Homo sapiens: one gene and its partners. The protein of the gene in region 4 purifies or fractionates together with the protein of the main gene of each other region. This does not show direct contact. Each region holds a gene or a part of one and is shown on either strand. Other genes may lie near its edges.

Region 1 (7,759 bases), on a different chromosome or scaffold from region 4:
CCACTGCACTCCAGCCTGGGCATAAGAGCCAGATGCTGTCTCAAAAAAAAAAAATAGAGAGAGAGAGCCAGGGTCTGGCTCTGTCACCCAGGCTGGACTGGAGTGGTGTGATCATGGCTCACTGCAGCCTTGACTTCCCAGGCTCAAGCGATCCTCCTGTCTCAGCCTCCTAAGTAGTTGGGACAGGCACATACCACCATGCTCAGCTAACTTTTTATTTTTTGTAGAGATGAGGGTCTCACTATGTTGCTTGGGCTGGTCTTGAACTCTTGGCCTCAAGTAATTCTCCTGCCTTGGCCTCCCGAAGTGCTGGGATTACTGGCATGAGCCACCACACCTAGCCTCATGTACAAGTTTTAATGTGGACATTTGTTCTCATTTCTCTTGGGCAGATACTGCAATTTAATCTTACTGAACCCCTAGTATGTGTCAACAAAAGCACTAAGCATTGGGAATACAAAGACGAAGGAAACAAGCAGAGCACCTGTCACGGTGCATCACCTTTACACCGTGACAGGTGCCTACTACAGAACCGCATCAACTGCTATGGCAACCTGAAGAAGAAACAATTCTTTACTTGGGAAGTCAGGGAAAGACGGGGTAACAAAGTTATTCAGGGTAAATTAGTACACTGGCTAAGGACAGAGCTGATAGAGGTTAACGCTAAGTCACAGAGTTTGGGATTTCACCCCTTAGGCAATGGGAAATCATTCAAAACTCAACATGGAAGAGGAATGAGTAAAGCTAACAGTGATTTACTCCAGACGTGCTTCCCCAACCATGAAGGTCAGTCTAGGACCCAAGTTCACAGTGAGGGATCTGGATACTGGCAGGTGAGGCAATCTGAATAAAAGCAAATTCTCTGAAATACTCATTATAATGCACCCATTTAGTTAGTGAAGAAAACATTCGTAAGGAAGGATAACTTAAAATAATATAATGTCAGAAAAGGATGCCCAATGCAGCCACTCTCTACCCCATAGGTGAAGACGTCTGAACTGATGGCTGGGAGCATTTTTCGATTCCCGCTCCAGGGCATGATCAGGTAAGCGTATTTTTCAAGGCTTTGCTAAGGTTTTTGTTTCTTTGGGGTTTTTTGCCCTTTAGTCTTATAATCAAATATGCCAAGCATATCAGTCATTCATTCCACAAGTAATGTCTACTGTGTGCCAGGCACTGTTCTAGGTACTAAGGTGACAGAAGAACATACAACAAAATGCTGCGCTCAGGAAGCTTATGTTACAGTGGGAGAGACAGACATTAACAAGTGCATATAGACTATTAAAATACGGCTAGGTAGTCAAAGTATTAACATGGCTTACTTTACCTCAATACTTATCTCTCATTAACCACTAGCAATCAGACATCAGCAATTCACCCCCATCAAGCAAGTAACAATAATCTTCAAGGTTATTAATGACCTCCTAGATGTCAAAACTAAGAGCCTAAAAGACAAATCCTTCAGTTCTCTTTCTCCTGACCTCTCTACATCCATGACCTTACTAACGCCTTCTCAAACGCAGTTCCCTTGACTACAGGTTACTCTGCTGCCTTCCTCTTTCTTTGACCACTGGGCATTCCCTGAGACTCGGCCAACATTCTCTTTCCCTATTAAATGTTTCATTCACTTCCACAGGTTCAACTATTTTTATCCATACAGATGACTCTCAGATCCATCTTTCTACAAAATTAGTACTCTACAATCTGTAGTGGTATATCCTAGAAGAGGCATGACTCATGACTCTGCCAGAAAAGAAATATCTGTCCCAGAGAAAGTTGAATTTATGCAAAAAAAAAAAAGGTCAATGTAAATAATTCTAAGTATAGTAGGCCAATCTTAGTGTAGGGATCTCAAACATCTGAGTGTGGAAGAATCACCAAGAAGCCTTGTTGAAAATACAGATCTGTAGGTTCGAACTCAGCAAGTCTGTAGTATGCTTGGTGTTCTGTACTTTAATGAGTGTCCCAGATGATTCTGATACCAGACACTTATGGGCCACTCTTTGAGATACAGTCAGAGATTTTTGGATACACAGGAAGCAGAGCGAGTGATTCAGAAGCAGCTGCAGAGTCCATGGCCATGTCTGGCGGGGCCCAGGAAGGAACGTGTATGCAGTAGAGTGTCTGGGAGAGGGAGACGGGAGACAGCAATGGTGGGGTCCACATGCCAGGTGGGGATAACAAGAAGCACCCCCCACCACGGAATACCAAGTTCAGCCTGGAAAGAAAGAAGGGGATGGTGGGCTGGGGCAGAAGGATCTGTCTGTCTTACGAGGTCTTAGCTTATTTGCAGACAGGAAGAATCTAGAAGTATAAGTAGAAAAAAGGAACTAAAAACAATGGAGAGTCCTTCTACATTAGGACGCATCAGCTGGTCCTGAGGGGAGACGGAAGTCCTTGGGCTCTGGGAACAGCGTTCTACAGCACAAGAGTGCCACCTACTGAGGCCCAGAGGGCAGGTTCACATTCAGCCGCCTTTGAGGGAAGACACTAGAATCCCAGCCCCTCTCCTGTTCTCTCACCTGGCCCACTGCAGCTCCAATGCTCCCCGAACCATCCACAATTCCTGTGACAGTGGCCAAAGCTTCACTGCTCCTTTGGATGAGCTCCTGGCGACCCAAGTCCGCAGAAATAGCAGAACTAATCATATTAGAAGGTCCACCAATAAAAAATCCTGAAGTCATAAACAGGTTCTTATTAAAACACAATTCACAACCACTAGCAATCTACTGCATAAGGCAAAATAATATCCGAATAGTTTTCTTAATATGTTGGAGAGAAGTGGAAAAAAAAGGAAACCCCCAGATAGTATCATTTTCAAACTATTAGTAGTTAACATCCACGTTCCTGAAATCCCTTCTCGAATTATGTGACACTCTAGTATATTTTGTAGAACCCAAAGATACAAAAATAGTGAAACACATAGCCCTTCTAATCCTGTGAAGTTTACATTCATTAATAACTAATTGCACTAGCTTGTCAAATAAATTCTATTACGGTAGTTGCATCATATGATCATTCCACTACACAAATTCAACCAGGAATATTGAAAAAAAAGAGCAAAGAGGAAAAAGCCACTGCAATGGAGCAGGTGACTCTATCTGCCACTGCTCTCAGTGAGGCTGCCCATGAATCAGGCATGCGATGGCCCAGGTGAATCTGGTCCCACTGCTGGAATCAGTTCCATGTACCCCAAGTAGAATGAGCAGCTCACTCTCCCAAGCATGATCTAAAGTTTAAAATAAGTAACTTTTCTGGCCGGGCGCAGTGGCTTATGCCTGTAATCTCAGCACTTTGAGAGGCTGAGGTGGGCAGATCACCTGAAGTCAGGAGTTCGAGACCAGCCTGGGCAACATGGTGAAACGCTGTCTCTACTAAAAATACAAAAATTAGCTGGGCATGGTAGCAGGCGCCTGTAATCCCAACTACTTGGGAAGCTGAGGCAGAAGAATCACTTGAACCCAGGAGGTGGAGGTTGCAGTTAGCTGAGATCGCACCACTGCACTCCCATCTGGGTGACAAGAGCGAGACTCCTTCTCAAAAATAAAAATAAAATTAGAAAGTTTAAAATAAGTAATTTTTCTGGCTGGGGATGGTGGCTCACGCCTGTAATCCCAGCATTTTGGGAGGCCAAGGCAGGTGGATCACCTGAGGTCAGGAGTTTGAGACCAGCCTGGGCAACATGGTGAAACCATGTCTCTACTAAAAATACAAAAATTAGCTGGGCGTGGTGGTGCACGCCTATATTACCAGCTACTCAGGAGGCTGAGGCAGGAGAATCACTTGAACCCAAGAGGTGTAGGTTGCAGTGAGCTGAGACTGTGCCACTACACTCCAGCCTGGGCAACAGAGCAAGATTCTGTCTCAATAAATAAATAATAAATAAAGTAAGTAATTTTTCTATAACATAGTCCCTAAATGCACCCAACTATTTTATCTAGTGCTCAAGTGACAAAATGCTGACCAATTCCAACACAGGAGGAGACACGAGCTATTGTGGATTTTTTTGAAAGCTGGTGAATTGGTCTCCCATGTGGCATTTTTCTAAGTCACTTTTAGAGGTAAGAGCAGAAGCTGGGGCAGCAATCAAAAATCGTAGAAAATCTCTGTCAATAGGGACCGCTTCTGTCACAATAGGACTGAGGAGGTCATGTAAGAAACAGCAGAGAAAAAGAATCTGGAAAAGGAGGCGTTTTTCCTTTTAAAATTTGAATTCTCTGTAATTAAGGTTTCGGTACTACTCAAATTGAGGGAGAAAACAGTTTCCCTTTTCCTCTGAATTTACAGAGCAACAGAAGCATGGTGGAGCAGAGCCATGTGCCGTACCTGTAACAGTCATCAGAAGGGCATTGATGGACTTATCATTTGGAGAACCTGTGAGGGAAGACACAGACAAACCATGGTGGCTTGAAAAGCAGACTCCACGTGCCTCTGCCAACCGTACGCGAAGATCTGAATCTCCGTGACCTCACAAATCACTCCCAGAGACAACAAAGAGACACAACTCTCTCTGCCTCTTTCAACTCTGATTTGTAACGTCTGCCTCTTGCTAATGCTCAAGCTAACAAGACTTCTAAAAGCTAAAGAAAAGCTCTACTCCTGTCTCAGCAGCATCTTAAGGGAATATACCAAACCTACTAATTACCATCTTTCCGCTTTTGAAACCTGTTCCCTTTTTATTGTTTTATTGGCTATAATGCTGTGCCTCTGGAGCCTCCCCCAAACAAAGCATATACACTCCCAAGCAAGCTTTTAAGCAAATTAACAAAGCAAAAGAGATGCCAGTTTCCTCCCAAGACAAATAAAACTATGTGATGACAGGTTTCCCAGGCATTCACAGGACAATGCAAAGGTGGCATATCGGGCCTTGAAGCTGGTCTCCAGGCTCTCCCCAGCACTGGTCACTGACTCCAAACAAATGCCTTATTCCAACCAGATTAGGGGAGCAAAGGAATTAGTAATTGCAAAAGAATACTCACGACTATACCCGATGAGGGACCCAACTGCCAGAAGCAGACTCAGGGCAAGAACCGGCGCTCTCTTCTGTAGTACATCAGAGATGAAGCCTTGCAAAGTTCCACCTTCAAGCAGAGTGTCGAGCAATCAAAATCACTTCTAATTTAGCTCGCTCACCTGAGGCGTGCTCCCCATTTGCCCTCTAGTCTCACTAGCAGCAGCCTGACACTAGTCTATCAAAAAATATGGCTGGGCCGGGCTCGGTGGCTCACACCTGTAATCCCAGCTCTTTGGGAGGCTGAGGCAGGTGGATCACAAGGTCAGGAGATGGAGACCATCCTGGCTAACACAGTGAAACCCTGTCTCTACTAAAAATACAAAAAAATTAGCCGGGCGTGGTGGCGGGCACCTGTAGTCCCAGCTACTCAGGAGGCTGAGGCAGGAGAATGGTGTGAACCTGGGAGGCGGAGCTTGCAGTGAGCCGAGATTGCGCCACTGCACTCCAGCCTGGGTGACAGAGCGAGACTCTGTCTCAAAAAAAAATAGGTCTGACTCCCTGAAAAGGGGTCCTCCATAACTTCCTTTTAGGAATAAACTGTCTGTTAAATCACCATGATGACCAGTGGGGACAGGAGACCACAAATCAGACAGCAAAACATGAAAAAAGGAAAAACTGTCAAAGCCATCGGCTATCCCTTACAAAAACAAGTTGTGAATGCTATTTTTGATTTTTCTTTTTAATTTGAAAGATAATGAATTAAGAACTATGCCTTGCTGGGCATGGTGGCTCATGCCTATAATCCCAGCACTTTGGGAGACCAAGGCTGGGGGACTGCTTGAGGCCAGGGGTTCAAAACCAGCCTGGGCAACACAGTGCCCTTATCTCTATAAAAGATAAATTAGCCGGGCATGGTAGCACGTGCCTATATTCCCAGCTACTTGGGAGGCTGAGGTAGGAGGATGGCTTGAGCCCAGGAGGTTGAGGCTGTGGTGAACCGTATCGTGCTGCTTGAACCCAGGAGGCTGAGGCTACAGTGAGCTGTATTGTGCCACTGCACTCTAGCCTGGGCAACAGAGCAAGACCGTGTCTCAAAAACCAAAAAAACTGTGCCTTACAGTATATTGAGGCCAGTAGGTGGGCACAGTGGCTCACGCCTGTAATCCCAGCACTCTGGGAGGCCGAGGTGGGCAAATTGCCTGAGCTCAGGAGTTTGAGACCAGCCTGGGCAATACAGTGAAATGCCATCTCTACAAAAAATACAAAAAAATTAGCTGGGTGTGGTGGTGCATGACTGTAGCCCCAGGTACTTAGGGAGGATCGCTTGAGCCCAGGAGGTTGTGGCTCCAGTGAGCCAAGATCGTGCCACTCCAGCGTGGGCGACAGAGCAGTACCCCCATCTCCAAAAAAAAAAAAAAAGAAAAAAAAAAGTGGCTAGTAAATATTCACTAAAATAAAATTTAGCAGTTATGGTTTGCTAATAGGACACAATCTTTAAAAAGCAGGGATATGAATCTTTCAAGCAACAATGTCACATACAGCACCATTCTGAGTTGTAGGGGCTATTGGACATCTGGTGTGTCCTTATCAGATAGCAGGCAGCTGGACAATTTCAACTTCAGAGGATACAGAATATGGTGAGGTCTAACGGTGGCAACCTCACCTTTGGCTCTGGATTTAAGAATACGGGCAGCCAAGTTCAAATACAGTAATAGCAGATTGCCTAGCACAGACTGTGTGCTTTCACAAGCTCACGGCAGTTGAGTCTCACCACAATTCTAAATGTTAACATTATTGAAGGTTATTAAGATCTGGCACAGCCATGTAAGTAATACCCACTAAAATACATTCTGCTCCTCTGCCTTACTTCCTTGTTCATACTTATTACCTCCTTGTTGATACTTCTAGCTACAGCAAAAAAAAAAAAAACCACTATTAAAATCTTTGTTTATAATGAAACAACTGTAAAACATTCACAAAAATTAATCCCTGCTGTTACGTCTACCTCTATGATCTGACGACCTACACACTAAGGTGTATTTCCCCTTTATCCTCAGCAGATATGTTCCATGACCCCCGTGGATACCTGAAACCACAGACAGTACCAAACTCTATACATACTATGTTTTTTTCTATACATACATACCCACGATCAAGTTTAATTTATAAGTTGGGCACAGAAATTAACAATAACGACAAAATAGAAAATAATAACAATATACTGTAACATAAGTTATATGAATGGTCTCTCTGAAAATATCTTATTGTACGGTATTAAGAGTAACTGAAACTTCGAAAAGTGAAACCACAGATAAGTGGGGGACTGGTGTATTCTTCCTTATTAGGCTGGGGAAGGTGGGGAAGGTGGGAGGTAGATACAATGAACACGTTCATATTCTAACTTGGATCTCTGACATACAATTAGCTTTAGAGCTAAGATATCACTGAGAAAGCCGTATGAAAGGATTGCATTTAAAGAGATTCCCATGTGCTTCCCGAGACAAAAGAACTGATCCATCAACAAAGGACTAAGAAAAAAGAGTCCAATAAATCACAGCGCTGCCTTAGGCTAGGTCTTCCTTTCTATGGACCTCTTGTTTTTTCTTTTCTTTTCTTTTCTTTTTTTTTTTTTTTTGAGTTTGGCTGTTTACTAGTAGGACAGTTTAGGGAAAATGGCTGTAGAATAAGTAATAAAACTTTAAATGAGGCCAGATTTCACAACCCAGTAAAAGATCACTAGTGACTAACTCTTTATTATGGAAAAGATGTATCACCGGCATACCTATGATCCCTCCAACGTCGTAC
Region 2 (3,500 bases), on a different chromosome or scaffold from region 4:
CAATCAGGAAGCATATATTGGGTTAACCACCCACTCACAGAGGTGGTAGGACTTGTGCTCCAAAGATCGGGAAATTTTCATAGCTGGAGTTTATATTGAAAGGTACTATTAGTGTGAACAAAGATTTGCAGTGGGCGTTAGTATGGCTTTTAATAATGCTATATAGAAAGTAGATTGGTCTGAGCCAACAGCATGTTCTAGAGGTTTGGTGGAAAAGGTTCAAAATAGGTAGGGCTTAGTTAGAATGGTGAAGGTTTTGACATGCAAGTGCAGGACAGTAGGTTTTACCAGAGGAGGCATCATGAAGCCATTTTAGACCTTGGACAATGATGGTTTGATTTAATGAAAATTGATATTCCTGAGTCCATACAGGTTAATGATCTTTGTCTTTATATTACTACTAACTTTTTTCTTAATAGATACAAAGCATCACAAAGACTGATCTCTCAAGATATCCATAGTAACACATACAATTACAAAAGCACTTTTTCTGTGGAAATTGTTCCAATATGCAAGGTACTTTTCTTTTTCATTTAATCCATATCTGTAAAAGAGTACAAGTAATTAATTGGCTTATATGTAATTTGTAGCTCCTGGTTTTCCTCTAGGGTTGGTTAAAAATTTAGAATAAGTTCCTTAAGTGACTTCTAACACATTCAGCCATGTTAAAAGATATATATTTTTAAAAAAGTCATGCTTATAATTATGAATTGACATGCCTTTTATTTTGGTGTATTAAAATGAAAAGACCTGGTTATAGTTGATAAAAGTCCGTATTCTTTGAAATTTGTGATCCTATGAGCCTGTATCATATAGTTCAGTGAAATTGAATAAAAGAAATGACATTAAAATCAATATTAGTGAGCCACTTTGTGGAATATGTACAAACAAAATTTTGGCAAGAAATGAAAGAATATTGTGATAATGTGAAAATGAGATCATAGAATCATTTTTATGATTTTAAAACATAAGCTGAATAAAACATTTAAAATGTAGATTATTTCATTTAATTGTACTAAGATAAAACTCTGCTTCAGAAAAATATGAATTAAAATTCAATAAATAGTTATTGAGTATCTATAGTATAGAAGGCTGTGTACTGAGGATTGTATAACTACAGGTCTCTGCCATGTAAGAATTTATATGTCAGTATTAAATCACTAAGAATGATAACTGCCATTATTGTGACCATTCTACATAAAGTTAATCTAGATACTTTAGTGTCTTTCACCTCATTCTCATCTCATAATAACTGAGGTAAGCCATATCATTTTGACGATGAGGAAATTGAAGTTTGAGGAGGTTAGATAACTTGCCCAAAGTTACATGATCACAAAATGATGAAGCTAGGATTTGCACCCAGGTCTGTGTCTCCAAAGCTTTAAAACTGCTATTGCTATTTTATAGTATGTACTAGGGATGAAATGATAGCTTAAAATAGGGTCAGCAAACTTTCTCTGTAAAGAGACAGATGGTAAATTTTTTAACTTTCAGGTCGTATAATCTCTTTTGCAGCTACTCAGCTTTGCTGTTGTACAAAAGTAGCATGGGTAATATGTAAAGGAATGTCAGGGCCGTGTTCTGGTAAAACTTTATTTACAAAAACAGATGGTGGGTCAGATTTGTCCTGAGGGTGGCATTTTGCCAACCTCTGGTTTAAAACAGTAAATGTTTCCCTGGTACAAATCTTGAGAAATATGAATTTAGGTGTGAGGGCATATTTAGGCCTTGTGTAACTGAGTTTTACACATGTAAAAATTAACATATGTATTAAACTATGTAAAAAAGTATATTTGTTTATCTTTGGAAACTCATGTATTAAAAACCAAGGACTGAACTAAGAGCTGTTATGATTGTGAATAGATACACCTTAAAATATAACTCAGATCTTTTTTGTATTTTAATTCAGTTTAAAAACAGATAATTACGTTGCTGCTTCATGTCTCCCAATATAAATGTAGACATGTGACTTTTTTGGGCTTAAATCTTTGATTGTATATTGGCACATGTAGCCATGTAAGAGAAATGTGTTCCTTTGAAGTTTATTTTTTAATGGAGATTGAAAGAAGTCACAGGTGGATTTATAGAATCACTCTCCTGCTAATGTTTATAATACTCTGTTTAGAATGTACACTGTATTAACATATAGAGTGATAAGAGGCATTCACACTGCAATAAAATGGAAATAATAATAGCTTGGTGATTTGGGCCCTGGATTTTTTTTTTTTTTTTGAGAGACAGTTTTGCTCTGTCACCTAGGCTAGAGTGCAGTGGCACCACCTTAACTCACTGAAGCCTCGACCTCCTGGGCCCAGGCTGTCATTCCACCTCAGCCTCCCAAGTAGCTAGGCCCACAGGCATGCACCACCACGTTTGGCTAATTAAAATATATATATATATGTATATGGAGACAGGGTCTCCATATGTTGTCCAGGTTAGACTTGAACTCCTGGGCTCAAGGGATTCTCCCACCTTGTCCTCCCAGATTGCTGGAATTACAGGAGTGAGCCAGCGTGCTCAGCCAGGATTTTTTTTTTTTTAAAGCATTTTTATTAAGACAAGATGCCTGTCATACTTAAGGTCTGATTCTTTTCTTTAGTCTCTTTGTTGATTGATAGAATTGAAAATAACGTTTTGGTTGGTCAAATGCAATTGGATTGGGTGTTTATTGATGAGTGTTTATTGGACTGTTATTTAGGATATGCCTCATTCTAAATGTTAGTTCTTATGCCTAGGATAATGTTGTCTGTCTGTCTCCAAAACTGGCACAAAGCCTGGGAAATATGAACCAGATTTGTGTGTGTATTCGAGTAACCAGTGCCATTCACCTCATTGATCCAAACACCCTACAAGGTAAATTCTGGAAATGATTTGCCTTGACAATTTTGTTTTGTATGACAAACAATAATAATTTGTGTTGTTAATTTTTCAAGCATTCTTGCTAATATTGTTTTGAAAGGTTAGTTAAAATTTGTGCTATTGTTTAATACAAAACATTGTGGAATTTGCAAGCTTTGATTAGTTACTTTTGTATTTTTTATTTAAAGAAACAATTCTGTTAATTTTTACATATTTACTGGTTTATTCCATTAATTTTTACTGAAATTGACTTTTTTTTTTTTTTTTTTGAGATGGAGTCTGGCTCTATTGCCCAGGCTGGTGTGCAGTGGCGCAATCTCAGCTCACTGCAACCTCCGCCTCCCAGGTTCAAGCTATTCTCCTGCTGCAGCTTCCCAAGTAGCTGGGATTACAGGTGCCTGCCACCATGCCCAGCTAATTTTTGTATTTTTAGTAGAGACGGGGTTTCACTGTGTTGGCCAGGCTGGTCTTGAACTCCTGACCTCGTGATCTGCCCGCCTCGGCCTCCCAAGGTGCTGGGATTACAAGCGTGAGCCACCATGTCCAGCCTGAAATTGACTTATTTACCTCATTTAATTTTTGTGACTATTTACTTAAGTCCATTGCCAAAATTTGGTGTCTAGCAGTTATTTTAAATTTTG
Region 3 (3,500 bases), on a different chromosome or scaffold from region 4:
TGGTATGTCCATACAATAAGATACTACTCATCGATAAAAAGGGACAGACTACTAATGGCAACAACATGGATGAATCTCAGAAGCCTTTTGCTAAGTGAAGGAAACCTCCGCCAGACCCAGAAGACTACATACTGTATGATTCAAGTTATATGGTGTTCTGGGAAAGGCAAAACTATAGGGACAAAAAAACCTGGTCCGTGGTTGGTGAGTTGCAGGGAAATTTTTTTGGAGGTGACCGATGGAACTATTCTGTATCTTGATTATTGTAGTGACTATATGCTTTGTCAAACTCACAGAACTGCTGAGCACAGTGGCTCATGCCTGTAGTCCCAACACTTTGGGAGTCCGAGGTGTGTGGATCACTTGAGCTCAGAATTTTTAGACCAGCCTGGGCAACATAGTGAGACCCCATCTCTACAAAATTAGCTAGGCATGGTGGCATGCACCTGTAGTCACAGCTACTTGGGAGGCTGAGGAGGGAAAATTGCTTGGGCCCAGGAGGTCAAGGCTGCAGTGAGCTGTGATTATGCCACTGCACTGCAGTCTGGGTGACAGAGTGAGACCCAGTCTCAAAATATAAATAATTAAAATAAATCAGGAGGCTGAGGCACGAGAATCTCTTGAACCCAGGAGGTCGATGCTACAGTAAGCCATGATTGTGCCACTGCACTCCAGCCTGGGTGACAGAGTGAGACCTGGTGTCAAAAAAATAAATGATTGGTTGGGCGCAGTGGCTCACACCTGTAATCCCAGCACTTTGGGAGGCTGAGGCAGGCAGATCACAAGGTCAGGAGTTCAAGACCAACCTGACCAACATGGTGAAACCCCATCACTACTAAAAATACAAAAATTAGCCGGGTGTGCTGGCATACACCTGTAATCCCAGCTACTCAGGAGGCTGAGGCAAGATTATCGCTTGAACCCAGGAGGTAGAGGTTGCAGTGAGCTGAGTTCATGCCACTGCACTCAAGCCTGGGCCATAGAGTGAGACTCCGTCTAAAAATAAATAAATAAATAAATAAATAAATAATTAAATAAAAAATAATTTGGGCACAGTGGCTCATGCCTGCAATCCCAGCACTTTGGGAGGCCGAGGCGGGCAGATCATGAAGTCAGGAGTTTGAGACCAGCCTGGCCAACATGGTGAAACCCGTCTCTACTAAAAAGACAAAAATTAGTGGGCATGGTGGTGTGCACCTGTAATCCCAGCTACTGGGGAAGCTGAGGCAAGAGAATCGCTTGAACCCAGGAGGTGGAGGTTGCAGTGAGCTGAGATTGCACCACTGCACTCCAGCCTGGGCAACAGTCTTTTTGAGACAGAGCAAGACTCTGTCTCAAAAAAAAAAAAAAAAAATATTGGCCAAGTGTTGTGCCTCACACCTGTAATCCCAACACTTTGGGAGGCCACTTTGGGTGGATCACCTGAAGTTAGGAGTTCGAGACCAGCCTGGCTAACATTGCGAAACCCTATCTTTACAAAAAATACAAAAATTAGCTGGGCGTGGTGGTATACGTCTGTAATCCCAGCTACTTAAGAGACTGAGGCTAGAGAATCACTTGAACCTGGGAGGTGGAGGTTGCAGTGAGCTGAGATTGTGTCACTGCACTCCAGCCTGGGCAACAGAGTGAGACTTTGTCTCAAAAAAATAAATAAATAGGACAGGTGTGGTGGCTCACGCCTGTAATCTCAGCCCTTTGGGAGGCCGAGGCAGGTGGATCACTAGGTCAGGAGTTCGAGACCAGCCTGGCCAACATGGTGAAACCCTGTCACTACTAAAAATACAAAAATTACCTGGGCGTGGTGGCAGACGCCTGTAATCCCAGCTACTTGGGAGGCTGAGGCAGGAGAATGGCGTGAAACCGGGAGGCGGAGCTTGCAGTGAGCCGAGATCACACCATTGCACTCCAGCCTGGGCGACAGAGTGAGACTCCATCTCTAAATAAATACACAAATAAACAAACAAATAAAATAAAAAATTAATTAACCTCACAGAACTAAACACTGAAGAGAGTGAATTTTACTGTATGTGAATTCGTTGTATTCTAATTTAAAAGAAAATCACTCAGGCTTCAGGTTAATTCCTTGGCAATCATGAACACTCTGTGGTGTATAACTTACAGGACAGGGATATCTGAAGTTTCCTGGAGCAGGAGAAGATGGGGTGGGCACAGAACCTCACCAGCTGAACCAGCTGAACTATGTCTTTATAGGGATTTTGTCAGGGAGAAAAAGTATCGGACAGAAGCTGAGATGTTTGGATGGAGCTTTGTCTTTGAGGACTTTGTCTCTGATGAGCTGAGAAACAAAGCCACCCAGCCAATGAAGGTGAGAGAACCTGGTCTTGCAGCTGAGGGGATAGGAGTGGGACCTGGACAGGGAATCCTGTGGGACATGGGTTACCTGGGACACAGTGGAGAATCAGACCTGAGAGGTGGAGGCAGAGGGGAAGCAAGAGAAACTCACCATGGAGCGTCAGATCAGTACACACTCCCAGGAAGTTAACCCTGAACCCAAGTTAGCTCTTGCCTAAATGTCCAAGTCAGGATAGGATCCAAGGAACTTGAATCAAGAGATCACCTTGGTGGGCCGAGCGTGGTGTCTCATGCCTATAATCTCAGCACTTTGAGAGGCTGAGGTGAGTGGATCACCTGAGGTCAGGAGTTCAAGACCAACATGGCGAAACCCCGTCTATACTAAAAATACAAAAATTAGACAGGCATGGTGGCACGCTCCTGTAATCTGAGCTACTCAGGAGGCTGAGGCATGAGAATCGCTTGAACCTGGAAGGCAGAGGTTGCAGTGAGCCGAGATGGCGCCACTGCACTCCAGCCTGGGTGACAGAGTGAGACTGTGTCTCAAAAGAAAAAAAAAAAGAGAGATCACCTTGGCAAGCCAACCTCTAATAAGGGTGGTAAGATGGGCTCTATAAAGATTCCAGTCTCAGCTGGGCGCAGCAGCTCACGCCTGTAACCCCAGCACTTTGGGAGGCCGAGGTGGGACAATTGCTTGAGCCCAAGAATTCAAGACCAGCCTGGGCAACATAGATCCCATATCTACAAAAAAAAGAAAAAAAAGAAAATTAGCTGGGCATGGTCATGCACACCTGTAGTCCCAGCTACTCAGGAGGTTGAGGTGGGAGGATTACCTGAGTCCAGGAGGTTGAGACTGCAGTGAGCTCTGATGGTGCCACTGCACTCTAGCCTGAGTGACAGAGCAAGATCTTGTCTCAAAAAAAAAAAAAAAAAAAAAAAAAAAAAATCAGCCACAACCTCACTTAGACCACCTGAGTCTCAGCCTGACGTCTCTGTTCTGCGTCCTGTGGCTCAGTCGGGGAGGTGCCTTTGCTGGGCCGGAGCATCTTGCAGTCGGTCTCCTTCTTTTTCGCAGTCTGTACTCTGGTGGCTTCCAGTGGAAAAGGCATTTTGGAGGCAGGTAAGGGCTGATTCCGCTACCTCATTTTCTACCCCTGCTTGACTCTTATTCTCCAGGCCCAGCCTCC
Region 4 (3,500 bases):
GAGCGGCCAGGTCGGCTCGGGCTGCCGGGGTGTTGGGGACGAAGTAAGGCACCTGGGGCAGGCGGTGGGGAGCCAGGCTTAGAACAGACAGACCGGGGGAGCGGTGTCCAGCCTTCTCCCCGGGGCCTCCTGCAAATGGGTTAGCCCAGAACAGCCTCACTCCGGACCACCCCGTCTCTCTACGGTTCTCTCTGTGGCCCCGAGGTTGGGAACCTGAATCCGATTTGGTCAGAGCCTCTTTCTTCATCATCTAGGGCCAGGGCTGCAAGCTCGTAGGAGGCCAGGGTCCCCGACCCAGGGCTGACGGGCGTCCTGAAACACAGGAGGGGCCGTCCTACCAGCACGTCCAGTGGGTCGTAGGCCTGGGGGGTCCAGTCTGGGATACGACCCATGCCGCTCTCTCCGTTGCCAAACTTCTCACAGAAGGTTCCGTACTGGGGCTGGGAGTGCCCACAGCGGTGGGGGTCGTGGAAGGCGACGTAGAGGAAGAAAGGCCTGCACGGGAGGAGGCTCATTGCCAAGGCTGCGGGGCCACTGCCACGTGGCACAGGAAGCCCCTCGGCTCTGCCTCCTCCTCTGTATCTGGAAGTCAACCTGTGACCCTCACTGCCTCAGTTTCCCCACGTCCCTTCTCCCTCTGACCAGGCTAACTCGAGTACCTGGAACCTTCTCCCCTGCCCCCATTCGAGCCACGTGGGGGCCCATGCATCCCGCCGGAAGACTCCGGGCTGTGCTCTGGTACCGGCCGCCAGGGGGAAGGGGCAGGGGCCCCGACTCATACCGGTCATCCTGAGTCTGCAGGAATTTCCGGACGAGCAGCTTAATTCTAGTGATGTTCCGCCCCACCTGGAGGACGGAGCCATTCTCCTCCGTGTACGCAAAGTCAAACGGGTACACGGTCTCCGGCCCCACGTGCTTCTTCCCGATGATGCCTGGGCGGGAAGAGAGGCCTGGCCAGAGTCCCTTCAGCCTCCCAACCCTTTCTGCTCCCTTCTCTGCCCCTCTCGGCCCTAAGCGCACTGTGGGTTCTCGTGGACACACAGCCCAGCCAGGAGACCCAGGCCCAGATCCTTTGGGACAAGAGCTAAGGGCAGGCCACGGGGGCTGAGCGTGCCTTGGTACAAGGTGCCGAACCTCCTGGGCTCTGGCCTGGCCTCTGTGCCTCACCCCACGCCCTGTCCTCGGCACGGGGTCCTCACCTGTGCGCACACCAGCTTGGCTGAGCAGCAGCGGCAGGCTCCGCACCTTGTCGAAGGAGTTGAAGTGGTGCACGTCCTGGTGCAGCCCGTACATCCCATTCTGATGCTGCCAGCAAAGGCGCATGAGGTCCGGGGCCCCCGGACAGCCAGAGCCCGCCTGCCGCACCTGTTCTCCCACGGCCCTCCCATCCCCAGGGGCCTTCTCGGGGCCCTGATTTAGACTTCGAGTGGCCAGCACCCAGAGACACTGGCTGTACCTCCCACTCCCTGCCCGATAGGCCCATGGGTCCCTCCCGTGAAAGGAGGACTTCGCCAGAAAGAAGGGGACCTGCAGGGCGTGCACCGACACGAGGGTGGCCTTGATGTTCTTTTTGCGTATCCGTACTTTTGAACTCTTCTGTTATGATCACACGTTACAGAGTGAAAAAGACAGGGTCAGGCCTTGTTTTATTACCTAGTTATTTTATATTGTAAAAGATGTGTACATTTTAAAAACTCAGACTGCCGGCCGGGCGTGGTGGCTCACGCCTGTAATCCCGGCACTTTGGGAGGCCAACGCAGGTGGATCACGAGGTCAGGAGATGGAGACCAGCCTGGCCAACATGGTGAAACCTCGTCTCTACTAAAAATACAAAAATTAGCTGGGCGTGGTGGCGGGCGCCTGTAGTCCCAGCTACTCGGGAGGCCGAGGTAGGAGAATGGCTTGAATCTGGGAGGTGGAGGTTGCAGTGAGCCGAGATCACACCACTGCACTCCAGCCTGGGCAACAGAGTGAGACTAAAAGAACAAGTGTCCTTAAACACCCATGTTCATAGCAGCTTTATTCACAACAGCCAAAGGGTAGCAGCAACCCAAGTGCCCACTGACGGATGAATATGGAGAAGCAAAATACGGGGCCCATCCATCCACTGGAATATGAGTCAGCCCTGAAGAGGAGGGAAGTTCTGACTCGTGCTACAGCATATGGTTAACCCTGAGGACATTGTGCTGAGTGAAGTAAGGACACAAAAGGGGGGCCGGGCTCGGTGGCTCACGCCTGTAATCCCAGCACTTTGGGAGGTCGAGGCGGGCAGATCACTTGAGGCCAGGAGTTCGAAACCAGCCTGACCAACATGATGAAACCCCATCTCTACTAAAAATACAAAAATTAGACAGGCGTGGTGGCGCGCACCTGTAATCCCAGCTACTCGGGAGGCTGAGGCAGGAGACTCGCTGGAACCGGGGAGGCAGAGGCTGCAGTGAGCCACGATCGCACCACAGCACTCCAGCCTGGGTGACAGAGTGAGACTCCAACTCAAAAAAAAAAAGGACTAGTCCTGTGTGATTCCACTCTTATGTGGCCCCTGGAGCAGTCAGATTCATAGAGACAGGGGATGGGGAGGGAGAATGTGGAGCTGGTGTTTCATGGGACAGAGCTTCTGTTTGGGTAGATGGAAAAGTTCTGGAGATGGATGGTGGTGATGGCTGCATAACACTGTGAATGCACTTAATGCCCCGGAACTGTGCGCTGAAAAATGGCTAAGATGGGAATGTTGATGTTTGTGCATTTTACCACAGTAAAATAGGAGCATGTGTGCCTTAACGGTGTCCGCTCCCTGCACCATGGCGTTCCTGGGACACTGTGGCCATGGCGGTTCACGCTGAGTGAGCCCACCAGGCCTCGCACTAAGTGTTTACATACAAAGCATTAGCCCCGCCAATCTCCATAACTAGAGTGGCATCTCATTACACCCACCATCTTACAGATGAGGAAACTGAGGCACAAGGAGGTAGGTGACTTGCTCAAGGCCACACACAGCAGTGCAGCCAGGGCTGGCGGGTGAGTCGGAGCCCCTAGTCTGCACTCACAGCCATAGGCTGTGCCTCCTCCTGGAGGTGGGAGGGAAAGTGGGCAACACCCCCCGGGATCCCAGGGATGGGAGACGTGGCAGAGGCCTGGGCCCCGGACGCAGCCTGTCTACTCCCTGCCCACCCCCTCCTCCCGCCCCTTGCACCTCACCTGGGGCAGGCCAGTGAGGAGGCTGGCGCGGCTGGGAGAGCAGCTGCTGACCGAGGTGAAGGCATTGCGAAAGAGGAGGCTGCGGCGGGCCAAGGCGTCCAGGTGCGGGGTGGCGATGGCGCTGTTGTTGTACGCGCCACTCTCAAAGCCTCCGTCATCCGCTGCGTGAGGTGGGAGACAGAGAGTGCACGGTCGGCTGCGGTCACGAGAAACAGCACTGGGAGTGAGGGAGGCTGGGACTGTGATGCCAGAAGGCGAGACACCCAGGTGGGCATGGTACTGGCTCAGTGTGAACACTCAGC

What was found.
Region 1: the proteins of SGSH (region 4) and SLC37A3 fractionate together in Homo sapiens (co-fractionation; one large-scale study listed by BioGRID). This does not show direct contact.
Region 2: the proteins of SGSH (region 4) and NMD3 purify together in Homo sapiens (affinity purification with mass spectrometry; one large-scale study listed by BioGRID and IntAct). This does not show direct contact.
Region 3: the proteins of SGSH (region 4) and SUMF2 purify together in Homo sapiens (co-immunoprecipitation; one study listed by IntAct). This does not show direct contact.

The regions. Positions count from the first base shown.
Region 1 is NC_000007.14:140,340,890-140,348,648, forward strand, and holds part of SLC37A3 (sugar phosphate exchanger 3), read right to left. Parts: coding exon 7,737-7,759; intron 5,082-7,736; coding exon 4,980-5,081; intron 4,375-4,979; coding exon 4,327-4,374; intron 2,675-4,326; coding exon 2,523-2,674; intron 1-2,522. UniProt on the Homo sapiens protein: Unlike the other SLC37 members, lacks glucose-6-phosphate antiporter activity.
Region 2 is NC_000003.12:161,238,311-161,241,810, forward strand, and holds part of NMD3 (60S ribosomal export protein NMD3), read left to right. Parts: intron 1-419; coding exon 420-516; intron 517-2,735; coding exon 2,736-2,853; intron 2,854-3,500. UniProt on the Homo sapiens protein: Acts as an adapter for the XPO1/CRM1-mediated export of the 60S ribosomal subunit.
Region 3 is NC_000007.14:56,070,786-56,074,285, forward strand, and holds part of SUMF2 (inactive C-alpha-formylglycine-generating enzyme 2 isoform b precursor), read left to right. Parts: intron 1-2,211; coding exon 2,212-2,326; intron 2,327-3,388; coding exon 3,389-3,433; intron 3,434-3,500. UniProt on the Homo sapiens protein: Lacks formylglycine generating activity and is unable to convert newly synthesized inactive sulfatases to their active form. Inhibits the activation of sulfatases by SUMF1.
Region 4 is NC_000017.11:80,213,834-80,217,333, forward strand, and holds part of SGSH (N-sulphoglucosamine sulphohydrolase isoform 1 precursor), read right to left. Parts: intron 3,360-3,500; coding exon 3,199-3,359; intron 1,306-3,198; coding exon 1,200-1,305; intron 933-1,199; coding exon 782-932; intron 496-781; coding exon 339-495; intron 53-338; coding exon 1-52. UniProt on the Homo sapiens protein: Catalyzes a step in lysosomal heparan sulfate degradation.